2 linked regions of the Homo sapiens genome follow. The protein of the gene in region 1 interacts with the protein of each later gene in a pairwise test. Each region holds a gene or a part of one and is shown on either strand. Other genes may lie near its edges.

Region 1 (3,591 bases):
AGCCTGTCTGGGGTAGTCTCCATCCTTAAGAGGGGCCAGAGGAGAGGACTTGCTAACTCAGTCTCCATCCTTAAGAGAGGCCAGAGGAGAGGACTTGTTAACTCCAGAGCAGACCACTCTTTGGAGGAGTTTTGCTTCGAAAGGGAGCAGGATTGGCCGGGCACAGTGGCTCATGCCTGTAATCCCAGCACTTTGGGAGGCCGAGGTGGGCGGATCACGAGGTCAGGAGATCGAGACCATCCTGGCTAACACGGTGAAACCCCTTCTCTACTAAAAAATAGAAAAAATTAGCCAGGCATGGTGGCGGGTGCCTGTAGTCCCAGCTACTCAGGAGGCTGAGGTGGGAGAATGGCGTGAACCCGGGAGGCGGAGCTTGCAGTGAGCCGAGATAGTGCCACTGCACTCCAGCCTGGGGCGACAGAGTAAGACTCCGTCTCAAAAAAAAAAGAAAAAAAGGGAGCAGGATTACAGCTGCAAGAGGATGGATGTGAGACCAAGAGGTTAGTTTGTTCTTTAAGGATGGCAGAAGTCACAGCATGTTTCATGTTGGTGAAAATGGTCCGACTGAGAAGGGAAAATCAACGATGCAGGAGGCAGAGGGGACAGTTTCTGGAGGGATGTCCTTGCGTAAGTGAAAATCACAGAATTTCCCCCGGGCTTCCTCAATTTCTCTAGAGGTCTGCTCCAGGTAGACTGAGGCCTCCCAGGGGCTCAGCTTACCTCTGCTGCACACCCCTCAATGAGGTAGCCCCACCCTGGCTCACCTGGGCCTTGTCCAGCAGTCCATACACGGTGAAGATGTTGGTGTCGGGCCGGACCATCACGGCGTGGGGTGGTATCTGTGCCAGGTTGCAGGCTGCAAACTGGGACACCTCGGCTCGGGCCCCGTTGGGGCACAGCAGTTCATAGTCCTCTGACCTGAGCTCAGCAGCCCAGGGCTCGGAATTGTGGCCTGAGGGGGGTAAAGCAGTGTGTGTGGGGACGTTCCGGGAGTGGAGAGAAGTGTAAAGAGAAGCTGCTATCCTGGGACCCCAAGGCCTTCACCACAGGGAGGTGGCAACATCTGGCCAGCTCCCCAACCCTCTCCATTCTCCACGTGCTCTGCTGTGTTACCGGGGTGAAAGAACCCAGCTGTGTTCATGCCATTAGCAGGAGCTGCCATTAATTAGCAGGGAGTAGGGAGTACCTACTATGTGACAAGTACTTTACACGCGTTGCTTGATCCCCACAACAGTAACGCAGGGTAGGTGTTTTTGTCCCCATTTTACAGGTGAGGAAACTGAGGCTGTTAATCACTCCCAGGCAGAGAACCCCATCTATGTGTTACATCCTCAAGCCTGAGTGTGGGGTGGCTCCCTGAAGGTGGTGGGTGATTGTCCCTAAGGGCTGAAGTTCTCAAATGGAACAGGGTATAGCATCACTTGTGGATGCAGAAGGCAGCTTCAAGGGCCCTTGCTTGCAAAGAATCTTATTCAGGAGGTCTCAGATCAGGCTCAAGAATCTGCATGTTAAACCAGCATCCCACTGATTCTAAAGCAGGCGGTCTCGGGCTGCCTGAGAAAATGCTGCCCTCAGGAATCACATTTTCATGTCTCTGTGCATTCACTTAGTATCCATCCTCCTCCCATTTCCAGGAAATCCAGGTGGGCCTTGAGGAGAGCTAAAGATAAAAGGGAAAGGAGTGGCCCTGGGAGGCGGGTGACTCACTGCAAGTGAACCTCCCAAGGCCTCTCCAGCACCTGCCCGCCTCCCCTGACCCCATCCCAGACGACACCATGCACAGATCTGGGACCAGGCAGGCCCGCTGGGCTCGTGCAGGAGCACACAGCCCCTCCCTGGGGGAGGGTTTCAGGTGTTCTTGGTAGGAGGCTGGGTGGGGGAGCTGGGCTGTGGCAACAGGAAGGGTTCAGGGCCTGGAGCCCTCCCTAGCTCTGCTGGGGCAAATGGTCCTACCGCCTTGGTGACCCCCATAGGAGGCAAGATCCAAGTTTTGAAACACTAACTGAGGTTTTCGTTTTTTTCCCTGCACGTCTTGCTTCCCATTGTCCAGTCCCCTCCCCACCGGGCCACAGTTGTGCCTTTCTGGGCTAAGTCTATAGGAGGAGACATGTTGGGAGCGAGTGGAGAAGACTGGGCCTCCAGCATTTGGGGTTTCAAAGCCTGGGGTGTAGGCAGGGTATGCAGACAGTACAAGCCTTTGGTGTTGGAGGAAAACAGCCTCTAGTCTTCAAAACGGACACAGATTCCTTCACGGAGAACAAGAAGAAGGGGAAGTGATATAAGTCAGGGGAGCGTGTGCTCTGATAGGACCATGTATGTACTGGGGTCCCGGAGCAGAGCGTTCCTGAGCTCTTTGTCCCAGGCGGAGCCCAGGAAGGTGACTCCAGGAAGAAAACCCCCTGTGTGGTATGTTGGGCGTGCCCTGCCTCGGTGTGGCTTGGGGGCTGCAGAGAGATTTCCTTGCATGAGGCAGTGACCTGCTCAGGAACACAGACCAGATACTGATTGAACTCATGACCCTGTGGAGAGGCTCATGCCACTCCCACCTCACACCTTGGCACTACATCAATACTCCCAGAAGGGGGTCTTTCCAGATTGACTGGGATTGAGTTTCTACCGTTTCGGTGGATTAGGGACTTGAATTCCAGGCCAGTAAAAACCGTCATGTATCCAGCACCCCTGGATGTGTGGTCTGAGGTCTGTTCTTACCCTGTGACCCTTGGGGCTCCCAGCTTCCCAGGGGGCACAGCCTTCTAGACTCAGCCTCTCTGAGCTGCTGCTTGGCCCCAGCCCAGCATGGTGTCTGGATGGTGCTGAAGATGGGGAACAGTCCCCCCGACCTACCTTTGGCCCTGCTCTTGCCCCCACCTACCGTTTGTGTTGTCAAAGACGGTTGTGTGCCTGACGAAGGCAACGTCACCCGCATTCTCCACCAGGCACCTGCCACACAGAGGGCAGGGCAGGCGTCGGCAGGAGGGTCCCAGCCTCTGCACACAGCCCCAGACTGCCAGGCCACCCGGGTACCTGAAGGCGCCGCGGTAGCCGTAATACCGCTCCTGGCTGTTGCCCACACACTTGTTGCGGCCCTGCTCGTCCCCCACGCACAGTGCACACAGCGAGGAGGGGTAGTTCTTGGGGTTGTTCACGGGCACGCAGCTGGCATTGAAGAACTCGCTCACTGCTGGGGTGGAGGGAAGGGCAATGATGAGGGGCCAGCAGTGGAAAGTGTGGGAGGGAGCTGGGCGGGCCGCTCCCCCACAGGTCTGCCCACCCCCCGGATCCTACACTGCAAGGCCACCTGTCTGCTCCGCTCCCCTCAGCTCTGAGTGGAGTGTCTCCTGGAGGATCTCAGTGCGGGGAATGCAGAGGTTGTCTAGATACAGCATCTCCATCACCAAACATCACCCAGCCTTCACTTGAACTCCCTCAGGGACAGGGATCTCACTACCTCACTATTTTGTTCCAATCAGAGCAGGTGTCCAGCTGTCTGGGAGTGGGAGCTGCCAACCCTAGTGCCCTCTGTGTGCTTGTGTCAGTGGTTAGAAAAAAAAGTGCTTGTATGTTTTCTGAGTTAACAGCCAGGACAGAGGT
Region 2 (2,375 bases), on another chromosome or scaffold:
ATGAGATAATTGCTTTAATTAAGCAAAAGGTAGCAAAGCTTTCACTCCGCCCTGTACCTTCTGTTTCCACTTAGGAGCCTTCCCATGTCAGAATGTGCAGATCTGTCTCATTGTTTCCTGTGCAGTGTGCCCCCACTTCACCCAGTAGTTTCTGTGTGTCTGTTATGTACTAGGTACTACAAGGTGCCAGGACGGTGTAGATACAGCCTCTGCTATCGTAAAACTCAATGATTCGGTGGGGGAAGACAAATGTCAGTAATGTACAAAGTAAAATGGCAGCTGTTAGAAGTATGAAAGGGGCAGGGTAGGGGGAGGTAGAATCTTCCCTGACCAGGTTAAGAAAACCAGAGGCCTTCTCTGAGGGCAAGAGGAGGAGAGGAGAAATAGAGTAAGGCAGGCAGAGGAAACAGTCTGAGCTAAGACCCTGTGGCTAGAAGTGGCAGAGGGAGAGGCAGCAGGAAGGCCAGCGGGGAGGCTGGGGCCCAGTGCAGGCCCAGGTTGGAGGAGCGTAGCACATGGAGTTTGGTAGGAGTTTGGGACGCCCTGGTGGATCTTAATTGTGATGGGGTGGGTGTGAAAGGCAGTCCAGGTTGCACTGGTTGCACAGGAGAAGTGATCAGAAGAGGACCCCAGCAGGTGTGAGCCGTGAGCTGGGAGGTGCTTCAGTAGTGCAGGCCATAGCTGAAGGTGTCCTACATCAGCAGGGTGATGGTGAGGTTTGAACCACTGTTTCACTGCATAGTCCCTGCTGATGGACACTTGAGTGTTCAGATTTTTTGCTGGTATATTCAGTGCTGCAGTGGACATTTTCATACAAAATATTTCGGTACACTTTTGTTTATATCTGAAAGGTAAATTCCTAGCAGTAGAATTATTAGAGCAAACGGAATTTAACATTTTGGTGTGTATTGCCAAATTGCCCTCCCAAGTGGTTTAGTCAGCTTACCCTTGCCAACAATAGATCTATCCTTGCCAGCCTTGGGCATCACATTTACCAGTTTAATAGATTGTAAAACCATATCTTAATTGGCTACCCTGAAGCCACCATACTGGAGAGGCTGCGTACAGTGTTTCACGTAGAGAGAGGGATACCCAGGAGGCCCACCTGCTCCAACCCCAGCTGCATGAGTCTTCCCAGCCCAGGCACAGACATGTGGATAAGATTTAAACATTTCCAGCCCCAGCCTTCAAGCAATCCTAGTTGACACTGAGGGGAGCCAACATAAGCTGAGCTGAGAAACAGTCTGCCCAGTCTGCAGATTCATGAGCAAAAGAAATGTTGGGCTGGGTACAGTGGCTCACGCCTGTAATCCCAGTACTTTGGGAGGCCGAGGTGGGTGGATCAGTTGAGGTCAGGAGTTTGAGACCAGCCTGGCCAACATGGTGAAGCCCTGTCTCTACTAAAAATTAGCCGAGTGTGGTGGTGCGGGCCTGTAATCCCAGCTACTCAGGTGGCTGAGGCAGGAGAATGGCTTGAACCCGGGAGGCGGAGGTTGCAGTGAGCCAAGATCAGGCCACTGCACTCCAGCCTGGATGACGGGATGAGACTCTGTCTCAAAAAAACGAAACAAAAATTTTTTAAGAGAAATGTCATTTGTTTTTGTTTTTGAGACAGGGTCTCACTCTGTTGCCCTCACTAGAGTGCAGTAGGATCACGGCTCACTGAAGTCTCTACCTACCGGCTCAATTGATCTTCCCACCACAGCCTCCCAAATAGCTGGGAGAAATGTCCTGTTTTTAATGAATTTGTCTTCCTTTTTGTCTTGTTTGTTTTAATATCTAGTGATCTAATAAATTTGGATGATATCTTTTGACTATCAATTATGAAACCTGTATCAGATATACACATCTTTCCTTCTTCATCCTCAGGCTTTCTGGTTTTGATGGTGATACTGTGGCTTTTGTACTTCTGGTGGTTTCCCTTATACTGTTAAACCTCTTTTTTTTTTTTAAATTAAACCAACTTAGTATGCATTAACCACTGAACAAGGGAAAGGAACTCACAAACTTTTTCCTGTGTCCCTGATTATTGTTTAATAGTGTTTGTATACTGACAAGATACATAATATCCACCTTCTGCACCCACAGTGTCCGCCTTTATGCTTGGACAAGAGCATGCAGGGTAGGACATTTCTGAGCCTTGCTTTTTTCCCTGGAAGTTTTTTGTTTGTTTGTTTGTTTTTTAAGAGACAGGGTCTCTTGCTGTCTCACTCAGGCTAGAGTGCAGTGGTGTGTTCATAGCTCACTGCAGCCTCAAACTCCTGAGTTCAAGCCATCCTCTTGCCTCAGCCTCCCGAGTAGCTAGGACTACAAGCATGCACCACTATGCCTGGCTAGGTTTTTTTTTTTTTGTTTTTTTTTTTTGGAGAAATGGA

What was found.
Region 2: the proteins of MELTF (region 1) and MESD interact in binary tests that used the Homo sapiens proteins (3 or more experiments, as listed by UniProt).

The regions. Positions count from the first base shown.
Region 1 is NC_000003.12:197,005,785-197,009,375, forward strand, and holds part of MELTF (melanotransferrin isoform 1 preproprotein), read right to left. Parts: intron 3,182-3,591; coding exon 3,025-3,181; intron 2,941-3,024; coding exon 2,873-2,940; intron 953-2,872; coding exon 765-952; intron 1-764. UniProt on the Homo sapiens protein: Involved in iron cellular uptake. Seems to be internalized and then recycled back to the cell membrane. Binds a single atom of iron per subunit. Could also bind zinc.
Region 2 is NC_000015.10:80,975,198-80,977,572, reverse strand, and holds the end of MESD (LRP chaperone MESD precursor), read left to right. Parts: 3' UTR 1-1,821; downstream 1,822-2,375. UniProt on the Homo sapiens protein: Chaperone specifically assisting the folding of beta-propeller/EGF modules within the family of low-density lipoprotein receptors (LDLRs).